Homo sapiens: one gene and its partner. The protein of the gene in region 1 interacts with the protein of each later gene in a pairwise test. Each region holds a gene or a part of one and is shown in the gene's direction. Other genes may lie near its edges.

What was found. Proteins that work in one complex are often made in the same cells at the same time.
Region 2: the proteins of FOXP1 (region 1) and SATB1 come close enough for resonance energy transfer, tested with the Homo sapiens proteins (one study listed by BioGRID).

The regions. Positions count from the first base shown.
Region 1 is NC_000003.12:71,573,705-71,580,871, reverse strand, and holds part of FOXP1 (forkhead box protein P1), read left to right. Parts: intron 1-7,167. UniProt on the Homo sapiens protein: Transcriptional repressor. Can act with CTBP1 to synergistically repress transcription but CTPBP1 is not essential. Plays an important role in the specification and differentiation of lung epithelium.
Region 2 is NC_000003.12:18,394,340-18,401,339, reverse strand, and holds part of SATB1 (DNA-binding protein SATB1), read left to right. Parts: intron 1-4,049; coding exon 4,050-4,161; intron 4,162-6,423; coding exon 6,424-6,878; intron 6,879-7,000. UniProt on the Homo sapiens protein: Crucial silencing factor contributing to the initiation of X inactivation mediated by Xist RNA that occurs during embryogenesis and in lymphoma.

The DNA.
Region 1 (7,167 bases):
GGATTCCCTTTGAAAGGCATCTGTACATTCAAACCGTCTACACTTCACCATTGGTTGTACGTAGACTTAAGGGTTTAGGGCTTGGACAATAGCTGAGTTGAGAAGACCTCAAGGATATTTAAAGGAATTTTTCTGCTACTGAAAATATATTGAAGAATCGCTGCAAAATTTTTCCATTCCATCCCCTTTCCCCCACCCCCGTTTTCCACAGCAAGAATCAATTTGGAGGGAGATGTGTAAACTAGAATTTTTAAAGAAATAGTAAGACTTCAGGTGTTTTCTACCCAGGGATAGCCTACATAATTGAGAAAGAGGAGTTCCTGCTATTTTTCTGTTCCAGAGAGAAATGTATCAAATCTTTTTTAGAATTCCACTGGAGTTTTGATTCTCAAAGTGGAAATACCCATCCCTTTGGGTCCAGGAAAAGAAAACTCAGCTCACAGTTTCAGAAATTTGGACTGTTTTTTTCCCCCCTCTGTCTTTCTATTTGAAACGTCTCACAATTAAAGAGCAAGAAAAATATAAAAAAGGAACTCAACTAGTTACCATTCAAAAGGTGTCAGCTAAAATCTCACTGCAAAGGGAAAAAAAAAGGTTTAACATCTTGCCACTGGCTGCATCCCCCACCCCCCTTAGACTTTGGATTAGTCATTGTATGAGAGAGAGGGAGAAAAAAAAAATCACTTTTTTTTTTTTTTTGGAAAAGTAAAGTAAACAGCCTCCAACTGCTGAACCTTGACAACCCAAATTAAGGAAGCAGGAGAGATCAAACAGAACTGCTGCTGGGTGGTTGTCAGGAGCTGCTACACGGAGAACCCTGGACTATTCGATCAAGCAGCAAGGCTATATGTTCACTTATGCAGAAATGGACCATTGCAGATGCTAATCTTTGTTGTGCAAGCGAAGGCTCACTTGGAAGGAAATACTCAGCCCCTCTCTGGGCAGCATTTGAGTTCCTTATGGATGCCGAGTCGCGAAACAAGTTATTTTTTTTAATGTATCCTTCTTTATGAGGAGAATGCTACCCAAAAATGTATTAAAGGAATATTAAGTCGTCCAGAGACTGTCTTGCTACCAAGAACTGTGCAATGGAATTCTTTTTACCAACATTAGACTCCTACACTAGAGTTAGATAACGTTTTCTCACATTGAGTTTAGAAGATCTGCCTTGTCAGGGAAGCCAAGGTTTTGTATGTGAGAGTTTAAATCTGATGTGAAGCTCAAAAAAAAAAAAAAAAAGAAAAAAGAAAAAAAAGAAAAAAAAAATCTCTGGTGATGAAGTTTTGTGTCAGCCCACTCTTGGAATTTAAAAAGGCGAGAGAGAGCAGTCTCCAGATTAGACAACCTCTTTTTTTAGATTGACATTCAACATGACCACGTTGCTACTTTTATTCAAGTTCTCTGTAACTTGTCCTTGCTTGTTGTCTAGGAAAATTTAACTACTTTACATTTTTAAAGGGAGTAGTAACAGTAATTACTGTAGCATTTTGTTTTCACAGGTTTATCAAAGTATAATGAAAGAAACATCAACTATTCAAATTAACTGTCTCAGATAAGGGGTTTATATTGCTGGAGATGTCTAAGATTTTGTGTTTATATTTAAATCGTGGAGTATAAACTGTGTAACACTTTTTTTTTTCTGGGATAAACTATCCCCAAATTAAATGTTATTTTAAATTAAGTAGAACAAAGTAGGAAACAGGATAAGTAAACACATACAGAAGAATAAAAATAATTGTCATTTAAGGATTATATTTTTAATTAACAAGTGTCGGTCACATAGTAAGCAGTTTATATATTTTTTGTAAGCCAGAGTTTCATAACCATGGTGCACAACATGTTTCAAAGTCTGTAGTTTTTACTAGATATACCTTTATTGTATAATTAAGCAATGTGGGTTAAACATACACATGGATGCTATTAGGCAATTTTCTGCAATATGTAATGTTTTGAAAACGCTATAAATATTTTCTAGTTAAACCATTTATACTTATAATAGCAAAAGTTAACTGAGTTAATATTGAGCCTAGGCATGGTTTTCTGTTACTGAGTTTTTCTTTGCCTTTTTAAAGACTATACCCCTGGCCTTGTAAATTTGCATCTTAGGCTCTGTTGAAGGGTATGTCTGTTTTCAGCAGTTGTTTAAATTAACAGAAGAATTGTGATATTTTTCAAATATATTTATATTGCAGGGGGTCCAGTGCCAAAATTAAGAAAGAGAAGGAATATAGCAGATGTGACAACTTCTTTTGAACCCAGCTTCCTCTTTGCAGCCAATCTTATTGTGCATATTTATTTGATTTTCATGTTTTACTTATGACTCAAACTCAGTTTTGAAACACTATCTTGTAAGATTCCACATCTCAAAAAGTATGTATATTTAGACAAGGTTAGGTGTTACAGTACCTATCACATTTCAGTGGGAATGCCAAGAATATTTACAGGGTATAGCAAGAATTTTGTCCTTTAAAAATAATTTTAGGTATACGTTAATAAAACCGAAGTAGATTGCAGGCTGTCAGAACATAGTATAAATTTTGTTTATGATTCTGTTACTTTAAGGTACTTACATTAAAGAAACTCATTTAACCCGTGACTGAAGAGCATTAAGTGGGGAGGGAAACCCTCTGAAGAGCTCCTACTGCCCTTTGCTCTCCCGATAATCTTAAATTACTACAATTTAATTGCAACTTCAAGGCATTCAGCATGAGCTGTTTCTTCTCCACGACCGAGAAAGGGTTTCCAGAGCATGGCTAGATTTACACAGGTGGTATTTTTGTTTTTAATTTTTTTTTTCTTTTTGCTAAGGGCTTTTCCTTTCTTCCTTATCCTGTCAGATGTCACACTTCTTTTATAGATTTCAGTCATAGTAAATGCCATTTTTGCTATACCAGCAATATTGGCCTTCTTTTTTTCTTTTTAAATGTGTTTTTTTGAATCTAGAGTATATAAACCTCTCAAGCAGGTAGGGGTTTGTTTTCTAAAGAAAATAACCTCAAGAAAGGCATCTGCTGAATAGACAGGTGAACTTTATACCTGAGCCAATGTATACTTTTACTATTTGCAGGGGATTTTTTTTTTTTAAGTTGATGGTAGTTAGTCCCACCAGGTGATCAAACATTGAGTTTGTGAGACAAGCCAGCAAGCCAAGTAGGTTTGCACTTGGGCCCATGCATTTTTTTAATGATCTTTCTTGTCATTTGTTACTCTACTCTGCAGGCCACTTTGCTATACATATGCTATCCAAGGAACCATCTTAAACTGATTTTTCAACATATTTCTCTTCTCCGGTACTTGGATGAATTAAGGATAAAGGCTCCAAAAGCTGGAATGCCAGCAGGCCTTGAGATGAGGCAAGTTCCTGAAACGGGCAAACCTGGCGAAATTTGGGGTATCTTCTGCATGATAGTTTTTTTCCTTTTTTTTTTTTCCTGGGACGTTTGTAGTTTATTTCAATGAGCATGTGACCATGTGCTTAATGGAAATTAAGCAGATTTGGCTTGTGTCGCTAACCTAAAAATAAATGTTGTAAGGAATATTTGATTTCTAGAAGTGTTTTGGTTTTGCATCCCATAGATAATGTTCTTACAGTTAGGGCTACGAGGCTGGTATTCTGCAAAGAGGAAGTACAATGGGGGAAAGTGCATGGCAGTCAGGAAAGACAATTAGACAGTGTTCTTTGTTTCTTTAATAAATTATTCTTATTAATTACAGTCAGTTTGTGCTAAGGCATTTTTCAATCCTTGTTTAGAAGTCAGCTGCCATTCACAAGAAGGTTGTGCCAGAAGCTGTGTTCTTCGCACGCACTGTTGTTTTACCCAGTCGTGAAATCTATTGACCAGATTGGCTTGTGGATGTCTCTGCAAGGCTTGTTTTTCTTTTTGCAATGCCCTGATGCCAGTCTTTAATACATGCCCTGCCTTGTACACAACAGGTGTTTGTTCGGTAGTTATTTTATGGGACTTAGAGTGAGAAAAAAATGTTTCCTATCTAGCCAGCCGCTGTGAGAACGAGTGCCTGAAAGGGAGAACCTACCTAGTACCTGAACAGGTGTAAATGGGTGTTTCCTCATGACCCTCCCCAAGCTGTTTTATTTCAAAAGGAGGGGAGGGGGGCTCAGTTTAGTGCCATGAAATTTACAATTCAGTTGTAATAATTTAAGGTTATTGGTAGAGTGCAAAGGGCAGTGGGAGCTTTCTAGTGGTTTGGCCTTGATGCTTAAAGCTGCTCAGTTGTAGGGTTAAATTAGTTCCTTCAGTCTGAGTACTTAAAGTAACTAAATCGTAAACAAAATTTATATTCGATTCTGACAACTAATAATCTATTTAAATTATATTAAAGTATCTGGGCAAAAATTTAATTAAAGACAGAAGTACTGTCAAGCCCTGTAAATATCTTGACAGGTCTACTCAAATGGAACTGATATCACGAAATATTTACATATGTCTGCTGTGTTCGGGAACATCTCAGCAGTGCCTGTGCAAAGCTAATTGCACTTTCCTTCCAAATTGTATTTTTAATAAAATAGTTTTTTTTTTAAAAAGGAATATGAATACATACACAGTTGTGTTCCAGTGTTCTGTTTACTATTTACTTCTCTATACTCAGAATCATGTTGTGATGAGTGTATTTCCTCAAACTGCTGCTAATTCAGATAAATAGCTGAAATGGGATCATTGAATAGAAAGCCCATGTCATTCTGTTTGATTTCAACAGTTTGAAGATATCAGAGGCTAGCATGTTATAGGACAATTTACTGAGGGAAAAATGGATCTGAATGTGGGATTATTGGGCCTTGTTTATGTTCAATAGAATAGATTTGCTTAGGACAAACATTTTCTCTGAGTTTTATGTTTGGACATATATTTATTTATTACTTGTAAGTCAGGTGGACATCCACATTTTACCAGATGCTCTGATTTTAGCTAATTTTGTGATTCACTTTGTTTACTAGGACACTGAAGAATATTTCTAGCATCAAACTGAATTTCCGAGGTGTCCTTTCTCCCTCCCAGCTGTGCAATTGAGTCATAATGTGACTTTCTCTGCTCCAGGTTCCCTGCTTTTGAATTAGGGGTAATATTTTAACATATGTTCTTTGAGCTTAGGGATCCAATGATACAGGGCTTTGTTATTACTCACATTTTTAAAAGATATTCTTGGTGCTCTCAGGACAGTGACCGCAGCTTTTGTTGGGGGAGGGTGTGATGTGAGTTTTGCTTGAGTTTCTTTTGCCCTGGTGCCTACCTCCTGATGACCAGTGGCACTGGTGGCTTCCCCTCCTGGGGGTGAGCACAGAGATGGAAGTGAATGCTCATGTCTGAAGTGAAGGGAGGTTGCAGTTGGTCCTAATTCAGCCTGGTTCAAAGTGAGGTCCTCGCTCACCTACCTCTGTATCTGTGTGTGTGTGTGTGTATGTGTGTGTGTGTAGGTTATTAAAATACAGATCCTTGAGTCAGAATTTTTGCTGATTGACATGGTAACGTACATTTATAACAAACTTCCCTTGATAATTCTGATGCATGCTAGAGACCTGTGAATCAAGTGATTTATTCTTTCAGATGTGTGGAACTGAAATCTCTATCTTCACTTGGATTTTACTGATGATTTCTTTGATTTTACCTTGAGGCCCATCCTGTGTTGTTTTTAATGTATTTGGATTTTTATTACGAATGAAAAACGGTGGTTTTTAACCAAGCACGAGTATTGGAATCACAGCAGAGCTGTTGTTCCCAACACAGACACAGTTGCACGACTCCTGGATGTGCCGTATCTGGGGTGGGGCCAGCATCTGTGTTTTTAAATCGCATCCCACATGGTCCTGATGCCCACCAAAGTGGGAAAACTGGACCTGTCAATTATCAGAGTTGGAGGAAAGCCTGCAACCCTTCTTAAGAGTTTAATTGAATTGGTTGGCCATTGTGAAACCTAAGAGAAGAAAACGGAGCTCCTTTTTCAGGAGGGCACAAAAAGAAACCTTGGAGACTTAGAGAAACAGAGGCAGAACAAGAGCCTCACAGTTCAATAACGTGATAGGAACAACCTGGAACATCGGTGGTTTTCACCAAATGTCAATATCAGATAATTTCCTTTTGAATTTTGTCTTGCCTGCATCCATGTTTCCCAATGGGTGTTGTCATGCTGTAGCTACCAATTAGTGTCAGATGACTCTCTAGAATTTTTTTTTCTGAGTATTCCATCTTAATTTTAAAATTGTAACTGTTTGCTCTTTGGATTAACCCTGCTGGCAGAAGTATTTTGATTTTCCCAAGCATCTTGGGAAATTCTCTATCGTATGTGATGGGGCATGCACGAATATTGATGGAAATAGCCTAGCCAACGATGCCACACAAATAAAGAAACCAGAATCCTAAGAAGAAGGCATCCTACAAGATTATGAAATAAAGGAAGATAAAATGTTAAGGAGGCTTATTTAAATATTCAGGGCTTCAACTAAAGATCTAACCACTAAGATCAAAAGAGTTATTTAAATAAAAGTTGTTGAGACATTTTTTCATCTGTATTAATAATGTGGCTTTTGAAGTTACCCGGTAATAATGTGTCCATAATGCCCACACCTAATTTTTAATTTCCATTTTGGCTTTAGGTGTGGCTTTATTTTAATAGCTGCCAAAAAGTTGGCAATTGTTTTTACGTTTAGAACTTCACAGTTTGCTTTTCTGTAGGTTTAGGTAGCATTGGGGATATTCGTCTAATAAAAACTTTTAAAATTTCTGTTCTGACCCTGAGGCACTTAAAAAAAACTCTTATGGGCCAAATTTTAAAAGTAGAGTGTCTCTACTACTGCATAAAGAATTTCTATAAAAGATGAAACATGGAGCTGATTGAAAGAATAGACGGCGCAATGGTAGAGGACACATAGTTACCACTGTCACTGGTAATCTACAGCTTGATGCGAAGTCATTCCGCCTTGTTTGTTGAAATGTTAATCATTTCATTAAGAAAGGTTAAGTAATTAACTGATATTTCATTAGGGAATCAATGACAGACCTTTTTTTAGTGATGTATGGTAGATATTTTCTAATAGAAAGTTTGCCCCATTTAATTATTTGGAAAGAAGCTAGTTGATTGAGCCTTGGGAAGGAGGGGTGGGGCATCTTCAGATAACATCTATGTCCATAAGCAACTTTAAATAATTTTGGAGAA
Region 2 (7,000 bases), about 53 Mb from region 1:
AGCCAAAGCGATGGATTTGAAAGATTCGTGTCATAGTTAAGCTGCTATTATGTTTGACCTTTAAGGGGAAAAAAGGGGAAGAGGATTTCTGGTGGCTTGTTTCAGTGACCCTTTTTATTGATCACCTAGTCTGTGTCCAGCCCTCTGATGAGTCCAGGATATATTCAGATGAGACCTAAGGCCCACAGTCCAGTGCAAAATAAACAGCAGGATGAGTGCTCTGCTGCAGGAGGTTTGGGAAGTTAGGAAAGGCCTCATGGAAGCAAGGATGCCCAGGCTGTATCCTGAAGGATGAGCAGCTGTTAGCTAGAGATGGGAGAGGGCATGGGCCGTGCATCCAAGCCAGAGGAGTGGTGTGCCTTCTTGATGCTTTCTACCAGATATAGGCCAGCTTCAGAAAACACCACCAAATTGGAGTATGAGAAGGAAAGAAATATTTCCCCGTGGTGTTTTCCTTTACTATTCCTTGTACCAACTTGTAACTTAATAATTTAATCAGTATACTTCATTCTACATTAAAAAGACTCAAAATACTGTATATCATTTGAAAATTTTATCTGATACTCAAAACATAGTCACCTGATATGAAATGTGATCATATAATGAAAGCCCAGTGATGAGGAGGAGGCAAAGGATTGTCATAGTAATTAATATCTCTTCAGTCTATATGTAATATGTTACAGGCTCTGTGCTAATTGTATCACATCTATTATTTCCTGTCCAAGGGCAGATAATATGTCTCTTCAAGTCATTATTTTCCTAGTGACTTGCCCAGTGCTTGGCACATAGTAGAATTTAAGTATATGCTAAATGAATTTTAAAAATGCCTGAATTGATGGATTCTCAGAACAACTCCATGAGGTGTATGCTATTATCATTCCCATTTAGCATAGGAAATTGTGATGGAATGGTCAACTATTTGACCCAAGGTCATACTACCAGTGTGTGACACATCCTCACTTGAATATATGTTTATTTCTATTCTGTTTTGTCAGATGAACATTTAGTGTTTATATTAATGCATGCCAGGCATTGAGCTAGAAAATAATATGGTGCCCCAGACCTACGTGAACTCACAGCTTAGTGCAATCTTTTTAAACCAGTACCTCCTTTTAAGTGACACAAGAATCCCAAGCCTTTCTAACATGGAACTTGGCCTACTATCTGTACATCCCACCACCTAGGAAAATTTTACCAATCATGACTTTTTTATTTGTGTTATCAAAACATTACGTGTTTTTTTCCTGATATTCTAAATTTAAGATTACACTACTGTATATGATTTTTCAAATGCCATGTGCACCACAAAATTCTGCAGTCTCTTTCCTGCCATTGAAACCGGCTGGCTGGTCTACTCCAATGCTATGCCTAAGCCTTTAGTAGGAATTTTACCACCTGAAACACACACACACGCCCACGCCCACACACATACACCTCATGAAGTGGCTATAGGAGCAATCTAATTGGACAGATTATTGCATATTGTCCAATAAAAATAGACATGACTCCAAGTTACCTGAATTAGGAAATATTTCCCAGTCACCCAAAAGCACAAAAAGATAGGGAATCCAAAAAGTTGCTTTGTCATGCATTATAAGTTACGGATTAGCCTTTTGATTTAAGTCTTGCTTAGGCTATTATTTACATTAATCAGAGTTTCCTAAGCATACACCATGTGACAGAAAAGCACTTAAGCCCAGAACCTACCAATTTAGGGTTAAGTAGGGTAGGGGGAAGCTTTGACAATGATGCACATATGGATATTATTTTCCATGTACGAATAATAATAAACTGTATAGCACTATTACATATAGGTTCTAGTTTTATAAAACTATTTCAGACATTTTTTCACACACACCATGGATGATTCTTCCTTCCGTCGTCCCCTATACATTTTCCACTGTTGATATACCAAATCACATTAAATTGAGATGATCTATTTACATATCTGTGTTCTTAATAGATAGTAAACTTCTTGTAGGCAGAGGCTGTCCGCCATCTTTGGATGACAGGTGCCTCATCTTTGTAGGCAGAGGCTGTCTGCCATCTTTGCATCCTTACTACCAGCCAGGCATATAGTAGGTGTGCAGCAAAGAGCAAATTTCATATATAGAACTGTTGGCAAACTGGAGTAGACTGGATGTTTGTCAAAAACCTCGGCAAAATTTGGATATTCCATACACTTCTAAAAAGTAAGACATAAACCACATCTAGAACTCATGTGTATTATTAACATTTAAGGAACTGCCAGAATGTCTAGATAAAGAGTAATAATTTTTTTAAAAATTGGACCAGAGTGGAAGAACATCAACTGTCATCCATTTGCAGAAGAATCACCATTATCCATCAGCGATCTCAATAGTTTTTATTAGTGTCTGACTTTATTGATCCCTTATTACAAGAGAGTAAGTGAGATTGAAGCTGACAGATCAGGTAATCTTCTGGCTCTGGTTTTGGCAACTTTGCTAAGTGTCTTTTTACACTGTGGACTGTGGGAGGCTCTTAGTGAAATTGCAAGCTATTGGATTAATGGCAGAGCATCATGAACACATTAAGAATGTCTTTTTAGAGATATAAAATGTGAAAATGACTATAGAGAGTGTCAAAAAAAAAGATATCACAGTGCCTCTTAGGAAAGATAGCTGTGTTTTACATAAATAATGCGACTCCAGCTTATCCTTCACTGGAAGTTCTTTAGAGATCCCCCAAATTTACATATTCCAGAAATGTGTGCATGCTACAGAATTAACACTGATAGTGGATGTCAGGAGAATGAATAATAACTGAAAGAGCTTTACATTAGAGGTAACTTAAAGAAGATAATTATATAAAAATACTTTTGTCCCCAAACTGGCTTTTCTGGTTGTTCACTGCCTCCTGAACAATGCTGCCTTCTATAAATTATTTCACCATAGACCAACTGATGTCTGAAATGTGAGTTCTCATGTTTCTGCACATAGGGGTGAGGGATAGATTGGTGCTACAAAATCTTACTCCTAAGACTCGGTAGGAAATTAAGTTAGCTGTTACTAGAGAATATGGGTAACAGGTTAATATGGACCATGAATTTAGTCATTGAAATTACCGTAACCAAAATTTGCTGGGAAGATTGAAAATGATTTAAAAAAAGAAACCCTCCTAGTGATTCATTAAAATCATGTTTTTCTTCATTTTTGTATGTTAAAGGGCTGACAGTTTTCCGGGCATTTATTAAAAGCAGGATAAAGATAAGTCACGATAGGTCATCTTTTTGTGGTATCCTTGAGAAATTTAGAAGCATGAAATGTATAAATTTAAAATTTTTATGATCGGTTTGAAATTCAAAACTTAAGCTTTACTATTGATGAAGCCAGTAATAAGATTGCAGAATGTTTTTCTCTTGATAGAGGATCTCTGTGAATAGTTTGTTTCTTCTCAAATACGGTCAGTTAACCTTTGATCAGTGTTAATGCGCGTCCACTTTAAATCCAAATAATAGAGTGGAAAGTGCAAGTTCTGTTTCTCAAATTTTAATATACATGTGAATCCCCTGGGATCTTGGTAAAATTCAGCTGCTAAGTGCACTGGTCTGGGGTAGGGCCCAAGATTCTGCATTTCTAACAAGCTTCCAAGTGATGCCCATATTGCTGGTCCCTGGTCTATACTTTGAGTAGAAAAGATGTAGAGTCCAGTCAAAAAATCGCGAAGTCTCGTATATTTATGAGTCACAATTATAAAGTCATCTTCATGTATTTGGATTTATTGGGACCAGTGAGTTTGACAGCCTAGTAATAGATGGCATTGATGGAGATTCAATGAATGCTAGAGCAAAGTCTGTGGGTTTGATAGCTTTATACTGGTCTCAGTGGGCTGTTGCTTTCTACTTAAATAAGCATTTGATGATCTACTTAATGAATATTAAGAAGTCGAAGCTTTAGGCTAAAGTGTGAAACCAAAATGTATTGGTACTCAGTTGATTAAAAAAATACAGTTGCCACAATTGAGATCATTTCTGTGTTCCATCTTGTGCTGCTGTGTATTACAAATATTCTCCCCCCTTCTTCATGCAGAGTATGATTTCTTCCATTGTGAACAGTACTTACTATGCAAATGTCTCAGCAGCAAAATGTCAAGAATTTGGAAGGTGGTACAAACATTTCAAGAAGACAAAAGATATGATGGGTAAGCAAAAAAAACATTGCAGCAGTGGCTACATACCATTACGTGTCATTTGGGGGTTTATCAAAGTCACATCTAAAGCCAGGTCTTTTGATTGCCCAATTAGAGATCAATTTAGAATGTTTCTTTGGGGGTGGGAAGTGGGTATGAGTATAATGAGATAATTAAATTCAATAAATGTTTGTGTTTAAATCAGCCAAACTGACTTGGTTGTCAGACATGCAGGAAATTGAGGCGTTGGGAGGGGAGCTGTCATTTTTTAACAACTCAGTGAAGACCTAACCAGGCCTTGAATAACTAATATTAGCTGTGATTTCTTTCTCTGATAAGTCTTGCTTTTAGGTTTTTTGTTTTTGTCTGGTTGAATGAGAAAGTGCCTATTTTTACACCCAATTTTAAAGGAAATTAAACTTCTTAAATTAAACTATTTATAGTTTCCACAGTAGAGATCAAGTGATTTTTATAGCTCTAACCCCCAGCCGCCATGGATGGGCACTTTGATAAGCACATTGCTTTACCATCCATACCAGAACAATTATTGCATCATTTCTGAACTTTTAATTCCAAGGTAGCATTCTATCTTAACACATAACTTTAGGTGAATATTTGTTATGCAAGAAGTACACTAAAATTATCTGCAGTGTAAAATGATAGATAAAAGTTGTGTATGGTACCTAAGCATTTAGATGATGGCATTTTCTCTCTGTTGAGTTTGTTAATGTTCACAAAAGCAAACACTGTGATTAAGGTTAATGTTTTAATTTTTATTACTGTTCTCTTTCACCTACTTTTACCCTCCAAAACATATATTTTAAAATAATATAGGAATGGGCATTATGTCCTGTTTTAAATCTATTTCTATTTATTTCTTTACATTCATTTAATTTTTTTTTAATTTTTTAAGAAAAATTAATCCAAATTTTGAGCAAGTTTTAGCTCTTAATATTTGAAGAAAAACCATCCATCTACCAAAATGGATTCTTTGCCTTTTATAGCTTAAGGCTGTAATGAAGACAATGCATCATTTTTGGAATAATTGCTTGAATTACTGTTCTCTGTGAATGGCCCACTTGGGCTGATATCACTGGTAGAAATTGAAGATTTCTTCCCCAATTCTTAGTTATATTTTGCGTATATCAGGAGCTATAGCGCTATGATAAAGTTCCTCTAAATGTAAAACCTGCATATTTAATGAAAAGAGAATTGATGATTAAAATCAAACTAGAGTCTACATGTGGGAAGTCTGTGTACAATTTGGAAAGTCCTGTTTATGTACAGCTTCATGCTCAGCCCTTCCAGCCAAGAGCATCGAACCAGTCTCCTCTTCGTACAGAAAAGCATTTACATACTTAGAGATGATGCTCAGCCAATCCATATGAGGAACCTAGCCAAGGAAGAAGCATTCATCCTGGGTAGGTGGGAATAAATTGCAAAATCATGACAGCCTCACCATTGTACCAGAACGATTCCCTGCAAGATTGTCTTTAGCATCTGGTGATGGCCATAGCTTCCTGAAGAAAAAACATTTGGATCTTAGCAACACTGGGTATGCTGGCTTGATATACAATAAATCACTTGCTTTATTCTAAAAAGTATTTCCAGATATACCTACTGCCCATGATGGTTAGAATTAAAATGAAGCAAGGCATATAAGATATTCAGCAAGTGTTCAATATACACTTATTATTATGCCCATTTTTATTTATTACATTAACTACTTCTATTCACTGCTGGGTAAAAATTGAAAGTAGGTGACTTTTTATGTCATATTTTTTCTTTTACACCTTTTTCCTAGAGTACTAAAGTTAATGAATATCATGAGAATATATTTGTAAATTTTTTTAGTTGCTTATTATAAGCTTATTTTCTCAGCTCAGCTCACTGTTTGTAGTTGTCATTAAGCAAATGACATTCTTTTAGAAGCCATTTTTAAAAATTGTTGCTTAGAAGCCTTCTTGGGGTAATAAGTGAGAGTGAACAACTAGTTGGAAAGAGTTTGGGTAATAATTGATTTTATGCCTTAAATCTAAACCACTTTTTAAAAATAAGATTAGGAATGCTGTCCCATTTCCAAAGTTTGTAGAATTGTTCAGGAAAGGAGAGCAAAAACACAGCCTGGTAAGTTGCAACTTGAAATTTTCTTGGTTTTATTGGATTTGGGGTGTGCCCTGTGCCTACCCTTTTTTAATTTAGGAAATGGTTAGAAATCTTTATCAATGCCAATCATTGTTGGCTGAATGTGATTTTACTCTTTGTCCACTTTAGTTGAAATGGATAGTCTTTCTGAGCTATCCCAGCAAGGCGCCAATCATGTCAATTTTGGCCAGCAACCAGTTCCAGGGAACACAGCCGAGCAGCCTCCATCCCCTGCGCAGCTCTCCCATGGCAGCCAGCCCTCTGTCCGGACACCTCTTCCAAACCTGCACCCTGGGCTCGTATCAACACCTATCAGTCCTCAATTGGTCAACCAGCAGCTGGTGATGGCTCAGCTGCTGAACCAGCAGTATGCAGTGAATAGACTTTTAGCCCAGCAGTCCTTAAACCAACAATACTTGAACCACCCTCCCCCTGTCAGTAGATCTATGAATAAGCCTTTGGAGCAACAGGTTTCGACCAACACAGAGGTGTCTTCCGAAATCTACCAGTGGGTACGCGATGAACTGAAACGAGCAGGAATCTCCCAGGCGGTATTTGCACGTGTGGCTTTTAACAGAACTCAGGTCAGTTGTGTTTCATAAGTGGTTCTGTGCTGTCTCCTATTTTCTCTTTCTTTAGTCCCATCTATAACTAAAGTTTATTCTTTTACTTCTGTACTAACATTTTCTCTCTCTCTTCATGTGAT